Regions from separate parts of the Homo sapiens genome. Here regions 2, 3 and 4 are each linked to region 1. The links come from fine-mapping of genetic effects on gene expression. A gene starts in region 1. Each other region holds a variant in brackets. All regions are shown on one strand. Distances are between the middles of the regions. Region 1 holds the start of CCDC69 (coiled-coil domain containing 69). Region 2 overlaps SLC36A2 (solute carrier family 36 member 2). Region 3 overlaps CCDC69 (coiled-coil domain containing 69). Region 4 overlaps CCDC69 (coiled-coil domain containing 69).

Evidence for each region. PIP is the estimated chance that this variant, and not a neighbour inherited with it, causes the effect. A credible set is the group of variants that fine-mapping cannot tell apart.
Region 2: its variant is the best candidate, but not a certain one, in a credible set for the expression of CCDC69 in whole blood (INTERVAL, PIP 0.69).
Region 3: its variant is the best candidate, but not a certain one, in a credible set for the expression of CCDC69 in whole blood (INTERVAL, PIP 0.69).
Region 4: its variant is the best candidate, but not a certain one, in a credible set for the expression of CCDC69 in lung (GTEx, PIP 0.69).

Annotation. Positions count from the first base shown.
Region 1 is chr5:151,221,521-151,226,671 of GRCh38, reverse strand. It overlaps CCDC69 (coiled-coil domain containing 69), which reads left to right and starts at 2,580. Exons shown (of 9, transcript NM_015621.3): 1 at 2,580-2,749. The coding sequence starts at 2,702. LOC105378230 (a long non-coding RNA gene) reads right to left here. Exons shown (of 4, transcript NR_160730.1): 4 at 2,322-3,196. RefSeq lists silencers at 850-1,144, 2,628-2,707 and enhancers at 2,828-3,027, 3,048-3,157, 4,578-4,797.
Region 2 is chr5:151,317,927-151,323,077 of GRCh38, reverse strand. SLC36A2 (solute carrier family 36 member 2) reads left to right here. Exons shown (of 10, transcript NM_181776.3): 9 at 863-1,032. It also overlaps the pseudogene ATP6V1G1P5. Among named protein-coding and RNA genes, the nearest start is that of SLC36A3, 17 kb to the right of the region's middle. The variant G/C (reference allele first, on the strand shown) is at 2,080.
Region 3 is chr5:151,189,816-151,194,966 of GRCh38, reverse strand. All of the region lies in intron 4 of CCDC69 (coiled-coil domain containing 69), which reads left to right. Among named protein-coding and RNA genes, the nearest start is that of CCDC69, 32 kb to the left of the region's middle. The variant A/TA (reference allele first, on the strand shown) is at 2,847.
Region 4 is chr5:151,198,347-151,203,497 of GRCh38, reverse strand. It overlaps CCDC69 (coiled-coil domain containing 69), which reads left to right. Exons shown (of 9, transcript NM_015621.3): 3 at 1,810-1,916; 4 at 4,414-4,501. Among named protein-coding and RNA genes, the nearest start is that of CCDC69, 23 kb to the left of the region's middle. The variant C/G (reference allele first, on the strand shown) is at 2,359.

The DNA of each region.
Region 1 (5,151 bases):
TGACCTCAGGTGATCCACCCGCCTCAGCCTCCCAAGGTGCTGGGATTACAGGCATAAGCCACTGTGTCTGGCCTACAAAAAAAAATTTTTTTTTTCTTTGAGAGGGAGTCTCGCTCTGTTGCCCAGGCTGGAGTTCAATGGCACAATCTAGGCTCATTGCAACCTCTGCCTCCCGGATTCAAGCAATTCTCCTGTCTCAGCCTCCTGAGTAGCTGAAACTACAGGCACACATCACCACATCCGGCTAATTTTTGTATTTTTAGTAAAGACAGGGTTTCACCATATTGGTCAGGCTGGTCTCGAACTCCTGACCTCAGGTGATCCATCCACCTCAGCCTCCCAAGGTGCTGGGATTACAGGCATGAGCCACTGTGCCTGGCCTACAAAATTTTTTTTTTTTAAATTAGCTAGGCTTGGTGGCAGGCACTTGTGGTCTCAGCTACTCGGGAGGCTCAGGTGGGAGGATCACTTAAGCCTGGAAGACTGAGGCTGCAGTGAGCCATGATCACTCCACCGCCCTCCAGCCTGGGTGATATTGCAAGATCCTGTCTCAAAAAAAAAAAAACTGTTTTAAAATTTCAAAATCTCACCAATACAGTGGTAGTCACTCAATTTTTTTTTTTAATGAAAATGAGTTTGTTATGTTTTGTAACACAAAAAATTCATCTTCATCAGTATTTTTGCTGGTTATGTGGCATTCTATTTTTATGGATATAGCATAATGTATTTAACCAACCTTCTTTTCTTGGCTGTTTAGGTTGTTTTGGGTTCTTTGTTTTTAATCATGAGCACTGTTCCAATAAACATTGTTAATTTTAGTATAATTTAAGTATATCCTGTTTCTTCAGTACCTGTGGAGCACGTCCTATGGCAGGGGTTCTCAAACTTTAGCCCAGGCCAGACATGAGTGGAGTGCTTATGAAGCCATAGATTCCTAAGCCCCATCCCCAGAGTTTAGGCCAGGGGTGGGGCCCGAGAATTTGCATTTCCAACAAAGGCGGCTGGTAGTGCTGACACTGCTGATTTGGGAATCACACTTTGTGAGCCACCATTCTCTATTATACTTGCTTTTGAGAACCTAATAACACGTTTCCTTAGTTTCCTTTCTTACACACTTTTGCAATTGGTTTTGTACCCTATGGAGGGAGCAATTTTTTTGAGGTCTCATATTCTTTCCCCATTCATGACTCTAAGCCGTTTTCACAGCACACCTTTCCAAGAGTTTTGGGCCTGACTTTAATATTCCAATATACACGCAAATAGGCATACACACTGATTTTCAAAATTGGTTATCTTTTTCCTGCATTGCCATTTCAGAAACCTCAGCTAATAACAAAGAGAAGATAAACAAAAGCTCCTTTTCCTAGACACTGACATTTTATGTCCCATAGTCACCATACCTGGCCTGCCTCAAGAGGTTGTTGTGATGAATAACATCTATCCAAGATGGATAGAGTCAAATATTACAGATGCTTGTGAGGTGGAAAAAACTATCAGCCCAGAAGTGAGGAGGCATTAAAATTAAACTTAGTATTATTGGCCAGGTGTGGGATCCCAGGACTTTGGGAGGCCGAAGCGGGCGGATTACCTGAGGTTGGGAGTTTGAGATCAGCCTGGTCAAAATGGTGAAACTCTGTCTCTACTAAAAATACAAAAATTAGTTGGGTGTCGTGGTGCATGCCTGTAATCCCAGCTACTGGGGAGGCTGAGGCAGGAGAATCACTTGAACCTGGGAGGCAGAGGTTGCAGTGAGCCAAGATCGTGCCACTGCACTCTAGCCTGGGCAATAGAGCGAGACTCTGTCTCAAAAATAAATAAATACAATAAACTTAGTATTATGATTTATTTGTAGGCCATTGAGTCAAAGTTTAGGTTCTGGAGTTAGAACTGTATTCTGTGCAGTGGCTCATGCCTGTAATCCCAACGCTTTGGGAGGCCAGGGTGGGAGGATCGCTTGAGGGCGGTCGTTCAAAATCAGACTGGAAAAAAGAAAAGAATTTGGTTGGGTATGGTGGTGAGCCTCTGTAGTCCCAGCTACTCAGGAGGCTGAGCTGGGAGGCTCGCTTGAGCCCAGGAGTTTGAGGCTGCAGTGAACTATGATAGCGGCAAAAAAAAAAAAAAAAAAGGAACTGGATTCTATCTGGGCTGTGGTAACTTACTAGCCATGTGACCTTAGGCAAATCATGTTGCATCTCTGAACACCATTTTCCTCACCTGTAAAATGGAGGAAGTAATACCTTTGTTGCACTGATATGGCAAGAAATAGAAATAAAATGTATAAAACAACTGGGACAAAAACAGCCCTCAATGAATGATAGTTGTTAGTTTATCAAATAATTGCTTTAATTATTTTTTCCCCCGGCCCTTTCTTAGCTGAGGGTTCGGAAAAGCATCTGTTGCTCCTTGAGGTTTTCTTTTCTTCTGCCCTGACCAGAGCTTCCTATTATTTAGAAGGATTCTGGTCACCTGCCTCTGGTGGCGGCGCCGCTGGCCCTGCGGGCTACACTGAGGCCCCGCTCTTCGGGTATTTACGGCGGGCGGCCGCCCCAGCTCAGGCTCAAGACAGCGCTTCCAGGTTCAGTTTCAGGGTCTCGCCGGCAGCCCCAGCCGGCGGGCGCGGAGCGGGCAGCGGGGCCCGGATCGCAGGCTCCTCTGGGGGCCCCGGAGTTGGGAAGCGGCGTCCGGGAGCCCCCGGAGGAGGATGGGCTGCAGACACAGCAGGCTGAGCAGCTGCAAACCCCCGAAAAAGGTAAAGGGCGCCGGCGGAGAAGTTTGCTTTCAGAGGAGAGGGGAGTGCGGAATCGCTCCGCCGCAGAGGACTCGGCGCCCCGGGCTCTCTCTGGTCGGCCCGGGATACCGGACGGAGAACCTGGAGAGGCCAGCTCAGAGACGAGGGAGGCTCTGCTGGGAGGCGCCCTTTACCCCGGCCCGAGCCGCACCAAGCAGCCGAGTTTACAAACACGGCACCCGGGCCAGGGAAAGGCAGCTGATTCCCGCTGCCTCGGGTGGGGAGATGTCGTGTGTCTGTGGCAGGTGCCCTCTGCTTTCGGTCTGGGGCTGTTCGCTGTGTGGCCATGGACAAGTGACTTGACCTCTCTGGGCCTTCGGCTTCCTCCCCCCGGGGGTTAAAGGCTGATAATCTCAGGGCTGCTCGAAGAGTGTTCCACAGACTCGCAGTATCAGCATCCCTGGGGACCTGTCAGAAATGCAGAATCTCAGGCTCAGGCCCAGTCTTGCCAAGACAGAAGCTGCCTTTTAACAATATGCCCAGGTGATGACGCTTTAAAGTTTGAGGCGCTGGTCTTAGGGCTCTTGCAGGCCCCAGAGCTGGTGAGTGTGGGCTGCCCTTGGGGTAGCTGGGAGGGGCCAAAGAGGGAGGAGATCTACTGCGTTCTGTGGCCCTCTCCTCCCTTCCTGTCCTTCCCCCAAGGGGCCTTGGAGCTGGGTCAGGGCCCAGGGGACAATTCTCAGGTTTCTTGCAGTGAGACCAGCTGCCCCTTGGGGTCTGACGAGCCCAGAAGGTCAGAGCCTGGAGCTAGAAAGATAGCCTCCTCAGGGGACACTGTGAGGCAGAGGGGAAGAAGGACCCTCAAATTCTGGCCCCTTTTCTTACCACTACCTGCCCCCTAGCCAGGTGGGACTAGGTGATCCCTTAAACTTTATCATCATTCCCCCTTGAGACCTTGAGAGGCCCCAAACTGTGACAGTGTTTAATAGTTTTGCAATGAACTTTAGTCCTCCCTCTGCTCCTGCTTTGCTTGTGCCCTGAGTACAGGTTTTTCTGCCTAACAGTAGTCCTAGCCTGGAGGATTCTACTCCCTTCTCTGACACCTCCTGGCTTTCCTTGCTCTCCCTTTATTACCAGATTGAAATTCTCACCAACTCCTGACCTAGAAACCCTCATGTCTTTACTCACTCCAACAGGGAAACTGAGGCTTGGCTCTATCAGTAGAAGGAAGGGGCTGGCTGACAGGGATGACAAGGCGGAGAGACCTGAGCCTTGGCTGAGACTTGTAACTGAGCAAGTGGTAGGCAGACATTAGCCCTGGGTGTAAGTCCTGGTGGTGCCATAAACATACTGGGTGACCCCAAGCAAGCCCTTGTGTCTCCCTGGGTCTCAGTTTCTCCCTGTATGGGGAGTGATGAGCAGGATGATCCCTAAGCATCTGAGAGTCTGTGTTCTCTGCACCTGTGTCAACCTTGTAGCTTGCAAAGTGGACCAAGGGTGAATTCCATCTACCTAGAGGTGGAGGAAACGGGGAAGAGCCTGACCCTTCCACAAGCTGGAAGAGGAGGTCACAGTAAGCACAGGTTCTTTGGCTCCTGCTCCTTCTGAGAGACTTACCAGCTGTTCCTGCCTGTCCCTGGCACAGCCAAAGCTCTGAAGGGCAAGTAAAGCTGGCACAGCCTGTCTGAGTTGGAAAGGGCCTTTGGGTACTACCTGGGCTGACGCACCCACTATACAGATAGGAGGTTAAGGCCTAGAAAAGGGAAGGAGCATGACTGAGGTCACAGAGCAACACAGAGCAGAACCCAGGTATCTAGTCCCCTAGCTCCGTGTTCTTTGTCTCCACCTCCTCCCGCTGTGCTTCCAGTGGCTTCTTGATGACTTTAGCGTAAAATCTTTTACTCCTGTTGCCTCAGAGAACAGCCTGGCATGCCTTCTTGGCCCCAGCCATGCCAGGCCCCTGCCCCTATATGGCAAGATTTATGGGCTGTTTTTGTTTAAAGTTCTCATCCCTGTAGGCTGTGCTCCTGCCCAATTTCTCACCCAGGTGCCAACCCCTTGGAAGGCATGAGCTCCCAAGTTCATCCCCAACAGGCTACCAGCCCCCTGGGAGAGAGGGGGACTCCAGGGATGGGATGGACAAAAATGAGCTCAGGCTACAGAGGGGTTAGGTTCTGATAACCATGACTCACCCTGAGTGTTTACAGCATGCTTTCACATCCCGCCCAGTCTCACAGAAGCCCTGGAAGTTAGGCTGAGCTGCAGAATCTTTCCCACTTTACCGGGGAAACTGAGGCTCAGTGAGGAACGATGGGTCCAAAGTCACACAGCCAGTTGGTGGCAAAGCTGTGCAGTTGAGCCTGGCTTTCTGCACTCCCCATCTGGTGCTCATTGCCTTATACAGATCATGGAGCAGGTGCTTA
Region 2 (5,151 bases), 96 kb before region 1:
TTTTGGTAGTGGTAGGGTTTCGCCATGTTGGCCAGACTGGTCTCAAATTCGTGACCTCAGGTGATCCACCGCCCTCGGCCTCCCAAAGTGCTGGGATTATAGGCGTGAGCCACTGTGCCCAGCATCACACATTTATTAAACATGGAAATGCATCTACTGCATTAGTGGACTGAAGGAAAACAGTCACATCTCAATAGATCAAATAGAAAAAAAACTTAGATAGAACTCAATATCCCTTGAAGCCTCACACACACTCTGCCCCTAGCTTGAGGCTGGCAAGTACCCCTGTTTCTCCTTATATTCCACCCTGACTCCCCCTAACTTCCACACAACCCTATTTATAAACTGTCTCTTCTTCCAAGGATTTGGGATTCTGCAGTTCTCTCAACTAGAGGCAACAGTTATGTGCCTAGAGCTTTGGGGAATCCAGATAATTCCTAAGGACTGATCACAAAGGACTAGAGTCTTTTAGATCCAGGGCTTTTGGTCTTAGCCACTTATCATCTGTGTCTCCCTGGGCAAAGTATCTGGCCTGAGCCTGAGCCTCTCTTTTTTAAAACATAAGATTGAGCATCAGATGGTAGCGATTTGCGAAGGTGCAATACATACTCAAGCTCAAGATGGTTTTTATTTCATTTAGAAATGACCCTTTCCATTGTTTCCACTGAATCCAGAACCGCACTATTTTCACTGCATGCTCTGCTGTGACTCCCTCTTGATTCTTAGAAGGTCCCTCTCAGTCATTTTCAGAAAGGGAAACAAAAGCCCAAGTCATTGTCCCAAGGTCAGAGGTTAATGTTCCAAGGAGGCCAGTGTCAGAACACAGTGGCCGTGGAGAGCAGCTCTGTGGTTTGTCTTGCAGGCTGTACCAGTCTGTCAAGCTTCTCTACATTGCCGGCATCCTGTGCACCTATGCCCTGCAGTTCTACGTCCCTGCAGAAATCATCATCCCCTTTGCCATCTCCCGGGTGTCAACACGCTGGGCACTGCCTCTGGATCTGTCCATTCGCCTCGTCATGGTCTGCCTGACATGTGAGTAGAAAGGAGAGTGCAGTGTTCCTGCTGATCTTTTCTGAGGGCTATAAAGAATCAGCCAGATGGGCCGGATGCATTGGCTTACACCTGTAATCCTGGCACTTTGGGAGGCCGAGGCGGGTGGATCACCTGAGGTCAGGAGTTTCAGACAAGCCTGGCCAAAATGGTGAAACCCTGTCTCTACTAAAAATACAACAATTAACCAGGCGTGGTGGCACGTGCCTGTAATCCCAGCTACTCAAGAACCAAGGCAAGAGGATCACTTGAACATGTAGGGCAGAGGTTGCAGTGAGCCGAGATCGTGCCACTGCACTCCAGCCTGGGCAACAGAGCAAGATTCATCTCAAAAAAAAAAAAAAAAGAATCAGTCAGATGGTAGAGGGCAGTCATGACAATCAGCATTTACTGAGCACTTACTGTATTCCAGGGACCATTTTAAAGCTTTACAAGTATTCACTCATCTAAACAACCCCATTCTTACATGTACCTAATTAGACAGATTTGTTGGTGTTCAGCCTAAGGGATTGACACAGCTTATCAAACAATAACTGTAAGAACTTGCTGCGCACTCTGGCACATGCCTGTGATCCCAGCACTTTGAGAGGTCAAGGCAGGCGGATTGCTTGAGTTCAGGAGTTTTGAGACCAGCCTGGACAACATGGTGAAACCCCATCTCTATTAAAAAAAAAAAAAAAAAGAAAGAAAAGAAAATAGCCAGGCATGGGTGCCCCATGTTTGTAGTCCCAGCTACTTGGGAGGCTAGGGTGGGAAGATTGCTTGAGCCCAGGAGGCTGAGGCTGCAGTGAGCTGAGATTGAACCATTGCACTCCAGCCTGGGCAACAGAGTCAGACCCTGTCTCAAATATATTAATAAATAAATAAATAAATAAATAAATAAATCATAAGAACTGACATGTATTGAACACTTACTGTGTGCCAGGCACTGTGTTCAGCTCTTTCTAGTCTAGATTTCATAATATTTTATTCAGTCCTCACAACAATTATCATGAGGTAGAACTATGATAAACCCTACTTTATGAAAGA[G/C]AAAACTGAGGCAGTGAGTGATTAATAATTGGCCAGAAAGTGTCAGAGGTAGGATTTGAATTCAAGTCATGTAAGTCTAGAGCCAGTGCCCTTCACCTCCAGGGCAGACATTGAAAATGGGACTCTAATTTGGCAACAGGTGTTGTTTGAACCTCACAATGTTGTATAAAGTGGGCCAACATTTAAAATGTGGGCAATCTCCATACAAATGCAGATTTTTAAAATTTTTTGGTGGGGCTACTATAAAATGATTGGGCAAGGCTGGGATCACATTCCCCATCGGCAACAATCAGCTGGGGCTCCTTGACCCCTGGACGGTCCTGTGCTTGCCTATTGGCTGAGGTCATTCCCACTCCCTGGCTCACAGCAGCCCCCATGACCCGGAGTACCCCTTTCTGCAAGTATTCCACCAGAGGCCGAAGGAGATGGCTAGAGATTCCTGTGTAGAGTAGAGGTGGCCCAGCTGTCCCTAAGATGCCTTTTGATTGTAATTGCAAAAGTGTCTTCTTTTTAAGGCCAAATTGTATTCCACTGTACGTAGAAACCACATTTTCTTTATCCATTCATCTGTCCATGGAAATTTAGGAAATTCTTTTTTTTTTGCATAACAAAGTGTTACTTTTAGATAATTATCAGTACACCGAGTAATAACATGTAACGAGTTTTTGAATTCTACCATCTAGTAATTTTGATTCAGAGAAACTAAAAGCAGCCCAAACAGTTATGCTAGTATTCATTATTCTAACCATTAGCAGGAATGGACTAATTTAAGGGTGGCTGCTGCTTCACACAGATTACAAATAACCATTTACTACTTTTTCATGGTTAGAATCCTGACATTCAAGAAAGCACTACAGGGAAAAAAAAAATATTAATCTCTTTCTTCTTCAAAGAACTTTTTTTTACTAGAAAAAAGAAAGAAAAAGTCAACATTGATACACTGATACATATGTTACTTCAGCTAATAGGCATGGGAAAACATGACATATACCCATTAAATTTCTACGAAATACGATGTAAAAAGAAAATCTATAGATAAGTTCTAAGTCTGTACAAAGAAGCTAGATTTTATATTCTCTGAGATGTGAAGGGACCTGCTATATAATATACAGAAATCATTTAATGCCTTTTCATAAGAATATATCTCAAGCTGCATATTCCTCGAGGGCATCTAAAATGCCAATCTGTGGTACAGGCGCTTCTTTCTCCCACTCTTCTTCATTTATGCAGCAGTTTTCATGGATTTCTGTCCAGGTGTCACAGACAAAAGCCAAGAGACTAGCCAAGCCTTCACCCCCATTCTGCTGGAAGTAGTTCTGGAGGCTGGTCCTCTTCTTCTGACCCTCCTGTGCCACTTCAGTGCCAAGGCTGCTGTGAGATTCCAGGGCTGCAGCTTCCTTGGTCTTGAACTCTTTCTCCCTCTGCAGGCAGTGCTGTTCAGTTTCAGTTCAGCAGTTGAAGCCTCAGCTGCTTCCTTGGCCTGCTTCAGCCTCTATGTTTTTGCTCACACTTGGACACCTTCTCAGTGGCTGCATCTTGGCCTGCAGCAGCTGCTGGATCCCCTGAGACTGGCTGAAGTGGCTGTTGATTTTCACTTTTCTAGGCCAGCCCACAGCATTCATTCGACACTGATTTTCTTTTTTTGAAGTGATTAGTTCTCAATTTGACCTTGAATGCAGGAACTATCCAGTATCTTACATATTCCAGACAGATCAAGGAATTTGCCCCACAGTATAAAGATAACAATCCCTTAAGCCTACACTACACTTCTTCATGCATTGTCAATTAGCATGTATGAGTAAATAACTTGGAGTAATAGCAAAGATAACTTTTCTGAATGCTTTACATGAAAAATCTCATTGAAGACTTTTATGTCCTATGCAGAATGAATCACAATACCTAAAAGGATAGTAGCCTTCATCTCCATTTTGCAGCTGAGGAAACAAGCTGAGGAAGGGGTGGGACTTGGGCAAGGCCATACAAGAATGAACCAGACTCCTGCCTTCCAGACCTGTTCTGTTCTACCACACTCCTCCAAAGGAGGCCTGCTCAAGGCTCCTGGGATTTATTGGTGACCAGGAACATTTTTCATCAAATATAATAAAAAATGTAAAAGCCCAGGTCTGTAAAACGTCCTGCTAAAAAAATATAATTTCAAAATTTTTAGCTTTTCGTGTTTCTTTGTTAGGGGTTTTCTGACATGTGTATAAAACCTGGAGAAGACACTTCTTTAAAGACACCTCCCGGATTTTCTTCCAACTGAAGATCTCTTTGTATTATAAATAATTTCATATTCTAATTGTTTGCAAGTAAAAGGTTCTTATACTCATGTTAATTATTTATTAAAATTCTAGGCATTTTAAAAAATAATTTATTTATTTATATTATTTATATTTATTATATTTTTATATATATAAAATATTTATTATATATAAAAATATATTTTATAAATAAATATTTATAAATAATTATTATATTTTTATTTATTATTTATTTTTATTATAGATAAAATATATAAAATATATTTTATTTATATATAAAATAAATAATAAATTTGTATTATTTATTTATATTATTTATATTATTTTTTATTTATTAAAATGCTAGGCATTTTAGAAGACTTCTAAAAAATTTGTACATTGATACAAATTTTGATAGTACAAACATTGACAGTTTGTACATTGATATATTCCAAACAGCTTGAATGGTTCCCAGCACTGTTATTTAGTGTTATTTATTAAGTAAGAGCTTAAGTTTTGTTGGATATGTAAGGATCCAAAATGCACCTCGGTAGCATAAAGATTATTTTAAGCTAAAAATGCCTGAACAAAAAGAAGCTGCAGAAAGAAACTTTGTCTAATCTTCTTTTGCTGATGTAAGCGGGACCTCCTGACAAATATAGCTGCCATAAATCCCTTCTCTGGGAAGTTTAGAGCCAGAAAAGAGACTTAGCATTATCATGGGAATTACTAACTGTTTAACAAATTTTATCTGAAACTGTCATATCTTCCATTTGTTCTTCCATAAAAGCCCTTTCTCCTCCCTCCTTTTCCCCTTATTAAGGGGGTATCT
Region 3 (5,151 bases), 32 kb after region 1:
TGACTCTTTTTGAGGGGATGTGCATTTTCATAAATTCTAATGCATGTATAGATTCTTTTTTTTTTTTTTTTTTTTGAGATGGAGGCTCGCCCTGTCACCCAGGCTGGAGTGCAGTGGCGTGATCTCGGCTCACTGCAACCTCCGCCTCCCGGGTTCAAGCAATTCTTTGCCTGAGCCTCCCGAGTAACTGGGATTACAGGCACGTGCCACTATGCCCAGCTAATTTTTGTATTTTTAGTAGAGACAGTGTTTCACCATCTTGGTCAGGCTGGTCTTCAACTCCTGACCTCGTGATCCACCCGCCTTGGCCTCCCAAAGTACTGGGATTACAGGTGTAAGCCACCGCGCCCTGCCGCATGTATAGATTCTTGTAACCATCGCCACAATCAGGATACACAACAGTTTTATCACTCCCAAAAAGCCGTCTCAAAATACCCTTGTATTCACATCCTTCTCCCACCCTAACCCCTGGCAATTACTGATCTGTTCTCCATCTCTGTAGCTTTGTCTTTTCTAGGCTATTACATAAATGAAATAATACAATATGATTTTTTATATTGGCTTCCTTCATGCATCACGATGCCTTTGACATTCATTCCAATTGTTGCATATCTCAATAATTCATACATTTTCATTGTGGAGTTATATTCCATTGTTTACTCATTCACTGTTGCAGGACATTTGAGGCAATTATGAATAGAGCTGTTCTAACATTCATGTGCAGGCTTTGTGTGGACATAGGTTTTCATTTATCTTGGGTGAATACACAGGAGTGGGATAGGTCATATGATAAATGTATGTTTAGCTTTATGAGAAACAGCTAAACTGTCTTCCAGAGTGACCACTATTTTATATCACCATCTGTGATGTATGAGTTATACCGTTGCTACTTCATGCCAATACTTGCTGTCACTGGTTTTTTATTTTAGCTGTTCTAATAGGTGTGCAGTAATCTTCACCATAGGTTTAATTTACATTTCAATAACAACTCATGTGCTTATTTGCTGTCTACATATCCTCTTTGGTCAAATGTGTGTTCAGGTCTTTTTCCCATTTAAATTAACTTGCTTGTCCTTACTGTGGAGTTTTGAGATATCTTTATATATTTTGGACAAGAGTTCTTTGTATTTGCACATATTTTCTCCTAGCCAGTGGGGTGATTTTTTTCATTCTGTTAATAATGTCTTTCACAAAGCCAAGCTTTTAATTTTGATAAAGTCCAATTTATTTTTTTCTTTGATTATACTTCTTATGTCATGTCTGTGAACTCTTTGCTAAACCCCAGGTAACAAAGATTTTCTTCAATGTTTTCTTCCAAAGCCTTATGGTTTTATATTTAGATCTAAGATCCATATAATCATGTGGTCTTTCTTTCTCTCTCTCTTTCTTCTTTCTTCCTCTTTTTTCCCTCTCCTCTCCTCTCCTGTCTTCTTTTTTCTTTTCTTTTCTTTCCAACAGGATGTCACTCTGATGCCCAGGCTGGAGTGCAGTGGTGCTATCTTGGTTCACTGCAGCCTCCACCTCTGGGGCTCAGGTGATCCTCCCACTACAGCCTCCCAAGTAGTTGGGACTATAGTGCACATCACCATGCCTAGCTAATTTTTTTTTTTTTTTTTTTTTTTTTGTAGAAATGAGTTTTTGCCATGTTGCCCAGCCTGGTCTCAAACTCAAATGAACCACTGGCCTTTCCCTCCCAAAGTGCTGGGATTGCAGGTGTGAGCCACCGCATCTGGCCTGGTTTTTCTTTAGATGGTTAATATAGTGGATTACATTTGTTTGAGTTTTCAAATATAGTTATCCCTAGGTATCCATGGGGAATTGATTCTCGGACCCACTTTGGATACCAAAATCTGCAAATGCTCCAGTCACTTATATAAAATGGCGTATTATTTGCATATAACCTATGTACATCCTTCCATACATTTTAAATCATCTCTAGATTCCTTATAATACCTAATACAATGTAAAAGTAAGGTGAATAGTTGTTAGACTGTATTTTTATTTGTATTATCTTTTATTGTTGTTTGGTATTTTTTATTTTTATTTTTTCAAATTTTTTTTATCCACACTTGGTTGAATCTGAGGATGGGAAACCTGCAAATACAGAAGGCTGACTGCATTGAACTAGCCTTGCATTCCTGGCATAAGCTCCACTTGGTTGTGTTATATTACTCTTTTTATGTATTGCTGAATTTGATCCTCTAATGTTTTACTGAGAATGTTTGTGTCTATGTTCATGAGGAATATTGGCCTGTAGTTTTCTTACACTATCTGGTTTTAGTATCAGGATAAAGCTTGCCCCATGTAGTAATGTCCCCTCATCTTCTCTTTCTGGGAGAGATTATATAGAATTGGTGTTATATCGTTTTTAAATGTTTAATCGAATTTTTCAATGAAATAATCTGTGCTTGGGCATGTCTTTCAAAGTGTTTAACAACAAATTCAATTTCTTTTTAATATTTAAAGGAATTTCAGGTTATATACTTCACCTTGGGTGAGTTTTGGTCATTTTTTTTTTTTGAAGAATTGTTACATTCATCTAAGTTGTTGAATCTAGGTGCATAGGATTGTTCAGCATATTTCCTTAATATCATTTCATATATCTGCTGTGTCTGTAGTGATATTTCATTCCTGATATTGGTCATGTGTATGTTCTCTCTTTTCTTTGTCAGTCTTGCTTGAGGTTATCAATTTTATTAATTATTTCAAAGAACCAGCTTTTGGTTTCATTGATTTCCCCACCCACCCCCCTTATTTTACCATTTTCCATCTCACTGGTTTCTGTTATTTTCATTTCCTTCCTTCTGTGTGCTTGCTTTATATTTGGTTAGCTTTTTTTTTTTTTT[A/TA]TTTCTTTTCATTCTTTTTTTTTTTTTTTTTTTCCTGAGACAGGGTTTTGCTCTGTCTCCCAGGCTGGAGTACAGTGTCATGATCATAGCTCAGGGCAGCCTCAAACTCCTGGAATCAAGCAATCTTCCCACCTCAGCCTCCTGAGTAGTTGAGACTATAGGTACCCCACCACACCTAGCCAGCTAATTTTTAAATTTTTAACAGAGGCAGGTCTCTCTATGTTACCCAGGCTGGTCTCAAATTCCTGGTCTCAGCAGTCCTCCTGACTCCGCCTCTCAAAGTGCTGGGATTACAGGTGTGAGTCACTGGGCCTGATACCTTTTCCTGATTTCTTCAGCTTAGAATATTGATTTGAGACCTTTCTCCTTTTCTAATATAAACATTTAAGCTATAAATTTTCTCCTAAACTCTGCTTTACCTGCATCCTACATATTGATGGTTTTATTTTCATTTTGTTGAGTTCAAAATATTTTCAGTCTTATTTTCCTTGAGACTTCCTCTCTGGCATTGAATATGTGGAAGTGCATTTCCAAGTGTTGGGAGATTTTCTGGTTCTCTTTCTGTTATTTGATTTCCAGTTTGATTGCATTACAGTCAGAGAACATAGTTTGTATTTTGCTGCTTTTATAGTTTGTTAAGGTTTGTTTCATGACTCAGGGTATGGTCGATCTTGTTTCATGTATACTTGAAAGGAATGTGTATTCTGCTATTGTTGGGTTGAGTATTTTAGATATAAATCAATTAGATAAAGTTTGGTTAATGTTAGTATTCAGTTCTATATTCTTGCTGATTTTCAGGCTGTTTTATGTGGAATGCTGAGGAGTGTTGAAGTCTCCAATTATAATGCATATTTGTCTATGTCTCCTTTCAGTTCTTTATCTGCAAATCATATAGCTACTATGACTTTCTTTTGATTAGTGTTTCTTTTTCCACCCTTTTACTTATTACCTACCTATAACATCTATTTACAGTGGGTTTCTTGTAAATAGCACGTAGTTAGTTGGTGGGTGGTTTTTTTTTTTAATTTCAACTTTAATTTTAGATTCAGGACACACATGCAGGTTTGTTACACGGGTATAGTACATGATGCTGAGGTTTGGGGTATGAATGATCCCATCAGGTGGGTTTTTAAAAACCCATTCTGACATACTCTGTGTTTTATTTGGTATGTTTAAGCCATTTAATTTACTGTTGTTATTGATAATGTTGATGTTCATAATGTTGGGTTGAAGTCTACCATTTTAGGATGTGTTTTCTGTTTGTTCTCGCTGATCTTTATCCTCTGTTTTCCCTTTCCTGCTTTTTTTTTGAGTATTTGAACATTTTTTAGTGTTCCATTTTAACTTATTTATTGTCTTTCTTACTGTATCTCTGTATTTTTTTTAATGGTTACTCTAAGAATTACAATATACTTAACAATCTACTTAGAGTTCCTTTTTTTTTTTTTTTTTTTTGAGACAGAGTCTTGCTCTGTCACCCAGGCTGGAGTGCAATGGCATGAGCTGGGCTCATTGCAAACTCTGCCTCCTGGGTTCAAGCGATTCTCCTACCTCAGCCTCCCAAGTAGCTGAAATTACAGGCACCCACCACCAGGCCCAGCCAATTTTTGTATTTTGGGTAGAGACCGGGTTTCACCATGTTGGCCAGTCTGGTCTGGAACTCCTGACCTCAGATGATCCACCCACCTTGGCCTCCCAAAATGCAGGGATTACAAGTGTGAGCCACCACGCCCGGCCTGAAATTGCTATTTTACCACATCTAATGGAATGTAAAAAGCTTACCGTCATGTAGGTTCCTCTGTTCTCTCCCATTTTTGTTACATTTATCTCATGTATTACATCTACATACATCTAATGCCCCATCAGACAAGGTTATAATTTTTGCATTTAATCATCAATCATATTTTAAAGAGCTCAAGGGAAGAACAGTCTATTGTATTTACTTAGGTCTTTACCAGTTCTGTTACTCTTCCTACATTCTTGAAGTTTCAAGTTTCAAGTTTCCCTCTGGTTTCATTTGAAGAATTTCCTTTAGCAATTCTTTTAGAGCAGGTTTGCTGGTGATGAATTCTAAGTGTCCTTCATCTGAGAATGTCTCGATTTAATCTTCTTTCCTGAAGGATATTTTCACTGCATATGGGATTCTGGGCTTTTTGTTATGGTTTTGTACTCCAAAAGAAAGCAGGAAAGAGAAAACAGAGGATAAAGATCAGCGAGAACAAACAGAAAACACATCCTAAAATGGTAGACCTCAACCCAACATTATGAACATCAACATTTTCCAGCAGTTTTTAAATTTTTTTCT
Region 4 (5,151 bases), 23 kb after region 1:
CACTCTTGTTGCCAGGCTGGAGTGTAGTGGCAGGATCTTGACTCACTGCAACCTCCGCCTCCCAGGTTCAAGCAATTCTCCTGCTTCAGCCTCCCGAGTAGCTGGGATTACAGGCGCCTGCCACCATGCCCACCTAAATTTTTTTGTATTTTTGGTAGAGACGGGGCTTCACCATGGCCAGGCTGGTCTCGAACTCCTGACCTTAAGTGATCTGCTCACCTCGGCCTCCCAAAGTGCTGGGATTACAGGTGTGAGCCATCGCGCCTGGCCTACATTTCCTTTTGTGCACAAGCAAGCAGGATAAGGTGGTAGTTAGGAGTATTTGCTGTGGAAACAGATTGTGTAGGTTCATATCCCTGCTCCCTTAATTTTGAACTGGGTGACTTTGAACAAGTTGCATGACTCCTCTGAGCCTCAGCTTCCTCGTCTGTAGCATGGGGGTAATAATATTACTCACGACTATAGGGTAGCTGTGAGGAGCAGGTGAGTCATCCCTCTGAGGCACTTGGAACAGTGCTGGACATGTTGCAGGCATGGTAAGCTCTCAGTCCTCCTATCCTGCTTTTACTATTTTTATTGCCATTGTTTCCTGATTTAATCATCTCAGCCTCACTCATGTGGTAGGTGCCATAATTATCCTGATCCCATGTATTAGGTAACTGAGGCACAGAGAGGATGGCCACTGCCTTAGGTCATACCTAGTATCTGATAGACTCAGTGTGGCATTGGCAGGTCCTGTTTTGGAGTTTCCCGAAGCAGGGGCTAGACTTCCTGTTTGTGTTTCCTTCCTGCTCTCAAGTAGCACCCTCTACTACCAGCTGAGGAGACGCTAAAGGTGAGGGGCCACAAACTCAGATGCTCATGGGCCCCAGCAGGTAAAGCAAATGACATGTGGCCCTTTGTATACATTTTTAATAACAGCAGGAGGTGAAGACTATAGCCAACTGCAGAGCCCTATCCTGGCCGGCCAAAGAGGAGGCAGCTGCTTCTGGCTCCAGCCCCTGGTTGACATGAAGGCATACATTGCCAGTTCTTCTTTGGATTCTTCAAGAAAAATTGGAAATCAGAATTATTAAGTAAAAGCTTCCCAGTTATTAAGTATCAACAACTAATTTTTAAATTATTATTATTATTTTAGAGACAGGATCTCGCTCTGTTGCGCAGACTGGAGTGCAGTGATGCAGTCATAGCTTACTGCAGCCTTGAACTCCTGTGCTCAAACCATCCTCCTGCTTTGGTCTCCCTAGTAGCTGGGACTGCAGGTGCATGCCATCATGCCCAGCTTTTTTTTTTTTTTTTTTTTTTTTAGAGATAGGGTCTCACTATGTTTCCTAGTCTGGTCTCCAACTCCTGGTCTCAAGTGCTCCTCCCACCTCAGCCTCCCAAAGTGCTGGGACTACAGGTGTGAGCCACCATGTCTGGCCAGCGACTAATTTTTTAAAAAATGGGGTAGAACAGGGAGACCAGAGGACAAAATGAGACCATTGGCTTATTCCTTGAAAGAGGATCTCCAAGTCCAAAGAGACTCGAGGGGCTGTCTCTGGAGACTGGTCCCACTCGAAATCATTCTTGAGGCAGAGACCAGAAGACAAAATGAGACCATTGGCTTATTCCTTGAAAGAGGATCTCCAAGTCCAAAGAGACTCGAGGGGCTGTCTCTGGAGACTGGTCCCACCCGAAATCATTCTTGAGGCAGAGACCAGGGTTCTCATCCCTTAGCCCCATTTCCCACACTCTCTCTGCCAGCTCTGACTGTACTTCCACTCTGTGAGTTTTTTTATTTTTATTTTTTTGCTTTTTCATCTCTAGCTATAACTGTCCAGCTCTGTGCATCAGAGGAGGCTGAGCGGCACCAGAAGGATATAACCAGAATTCTCCAGCAACATGAGGAGGAAAAGAAGAAATGGGCACAACAGGTAAGTCCAGGTGCCCCCACCCCCTGTCTTTCTCCTGCTCAGCTAACTTTGGTGAATCCCAGAGTGAGTGCCTACCTTAGGTTTTTGTTGCTGTTGTAAGAGTCCCTTACTCATTTTACCAGGAAGGGAGTCCTTTATCTGTTGAACACATATTTTTATCAGGGCACTGTGTGCTGGGCACATTGGTTAAAACAAGCAGAGCTGGCAGCTGCTTTCACGAAGCTGAGAGTCTATTTGGGAAGAGTAAAAGCTGTTGATGCCACTAGATTAATTGCCTTTCTGGGCCCACCTCATGGTTGGGTGGGACCACGGAACTCGTTCTGGCTGATGCGTTATAGAAAGAAGAACCAGTGTCACTTCTAGGGCAAGCATTTAGTTGCCAGTTCAAGACCCTCAAGGTCTTTCTGTCTAGCTAAGTGACGGGACTGTTGTAATGGCCGCT[C/G]TATCAGCCTGATCTCTGGGTGATTATCCCTGGATAATCCTGGATAATCCCTGGCAGCAGAGCTCCCTGCCACACAAAATGGGTAGGTAGTGAGGGCAAAATAAACATTTTGTCTTAAGCCACTGAGACTTTGTCATTGTTTGTTATGGCAGCATAATTTAGCTTATATGACTGAGATGGGACATCAGATGCTAAACACAATTACACAGAAATACTTACTGCAAATATAAGTGCTATGAAAAGTTTACAGTGCCGTGAAAGGACATAATAGAACCCTTAACCAAGGCTGTGGGATCAGAGAAGGCTTCTCTAAAGGGATGACACGGAGGCTTTAAAATTACCCAGAAATGAAAATTGAGGGACATTCTACAGAATTTCCAGCCTATATTAGTCAAATGTCAAGGCCATGAAACATGAGGAAAGACTGGGGAACAATTCTAGATTGAAGGACACTAAAGTGATGGGATGACTGAATGTAACCTGCAGCCCAGGATTTCCTTTTCCTCATTCTAACTTGGTCACTCACCCTTCACCTCTCTTTGCCTCCATTTCTTCCTTTACCAGAGGGAATGGGTAGAGCAGCAGGAAAGATTTGGTGGTGTACACAAGTTTTCTCTAAATTTTCTTTAGTTTAAATTATAAATATGAAATATGTTCAGGGTAAATATTCAAAATTCTGAAATTTAAAGTCACTGCTTTAAGATAGATCTGGGCCAGGCATGCCTATAATCCTAGCACTTTGGGAGGCCGAGGCAGGCAGATCACCTGACGTCAGGAGTTCGAGAACAGCCTGGGCAACATGGCGAGACCACCGTCTCTACAAAAATACAAAAATTAGCCCAGCCTGGTGGCACATGCCTGTAATCCCAGCTACTTGGGAAGCTGAGGCAGGAGAATCACTTGAACCTGGGAGGCAGAGGTTGCAGTGAGCTGAGATCTCACCACTGCACTCTTGCCTGGGTGGCAGAGCAAGAATCCATCTCAAAAAAAAAAAAAGTCTCCGTAGTTATAAACTAATCACTCTATTAAATCACATGGTTATTTATTACTGAAAGATTTTCTGCTAGATTTTATTCACCCAGTCGACTTGCTGGGGGAGATTACTATGTGCGGGGAGGGTGCGGCCTCAGCACTGCCAGGGGTACAGGGAGAAATCGGGTCCAGACCCTGCCCTCAGGTGTTCGCTGGGTGGAAGGCTGTGGCAAGTGCCCCCACACACATTAAAATGGTTTTAGCTTAGACGCATTTTTCAGAAACACACCTTTTATGAAAGGTAAGTTAACTGTATGCAGCTGCTGGTCTTTAGTTTGTTTTGGTAGAGTTACCATGGTAATGTCATTTGGCCCTGACCATTACCTGTGGAATCCTTAACCTTGAGACTTGTAAGGGCCCCAGGTATTGTCAAGTTGAGTCCCTTCATTATACAGTGGAGGGAGCTCATTACCCAGGAACTCAGTGGTATGCTGGGGCTAGAATGCCTAATTTAAGTCATGCCTTGCCTCTGGATATGCCCCATCAGCTGTACCTTACAGGTGGCAAAGGGACTGGAAAACATCTCAAGTGGGGGACAATGAGAATGGCTGGGAGGGTTCAGCCTGGGGAAGAGAAATGTTGGGAATATGGGCCACTATGCTCAGATCTCTGAGGGGCTGCCTGGGTTGAGGGAACAGTCTGGCTCTGTGTGACCCCAGAGGGCAGATCTGGGACCTGATGGTAGAAGTTGGAGGTCACTTGAAACAGTAAGCCTTACGCAAGCAGAGAAACACCATGGGAGGCTTCCTGCCTTGAGGAAGCATCAGGATTAGAATACTCCTAAATCCTTTTCCATGTGGATAATTACATGGGAACCCCCTGCTAAACCCTAAAGAAGGCAAATTCTGCCACGCTTGCTGTGTCTTGGAAGTCTTGTGTCCTTTCTGGGCGTGTCATTCCCATCCCTCAGAGGAAGGGTTAGGACTCTGGTCACCAAGTTCCACGTAGGCCCAGGTGAGGGGATAAGAGATGCTGTGCTGATCCTGCTCAATCTCAGTCCTGCCCGGGACTCTCTGCCCCCAGGTGGAGAAGGAAAGGGAGCTAGAGCTTCGAGACAGACTGGATGAGCAGCAAAGGGTCCTGGAAGGAAAGAATGAAGAGGCCCTGCAAGGTAAGGGTAGAGATGTTCCACTGGCCAAGGTGGTGGGGGGTGCTTCCTTCTGGCCCCACCTGCCCAGTTCACCTGGGCACTCCCACTGTTCCCTCCCTGTCTGTCTGATCCACAAGCAATTGACTCAAATCTACAGGATCCTTGGCCCTAGAGGGTTGATGGACTTTTCCTTTGGGGCATGGATTTAAGAGGCTGGCATCAACCTTTCTTTTTCCTTATTTGAGAGGTATTTTTTTCTTTCCATTTAAAAAGCAATCCATATTTATTAAGGGAAATTTGGAAAACCCAGACAAATAGAAGAATTTTTAAATACACATATTCCATCCCCACGATGATGGTAGCTCTTATTTATTGTTAGATTGATTATTTTGAAAAATGACTTTCTTTCCTCTTATATCACCAAAGGTGATCATCACAGAAAATTTGGAAACTGTAGATTAGACAAAAAGATCTTACAGCACAGTGGTTAACGTCTCATTCTTGGCTGGGCATTGTGGCTCACGCCTGTATTCCTGGCACTTTGAGAGTCCAAGGTGGATAGATTGCTTGAGCCCAGGAGTTCAAGACTAACCTGGGCAACATAGCAAGATGCTGTCACTATTAAAAATAAATAGATAGATAGATAGATATCAAACTTTCCAGTTTGGTAA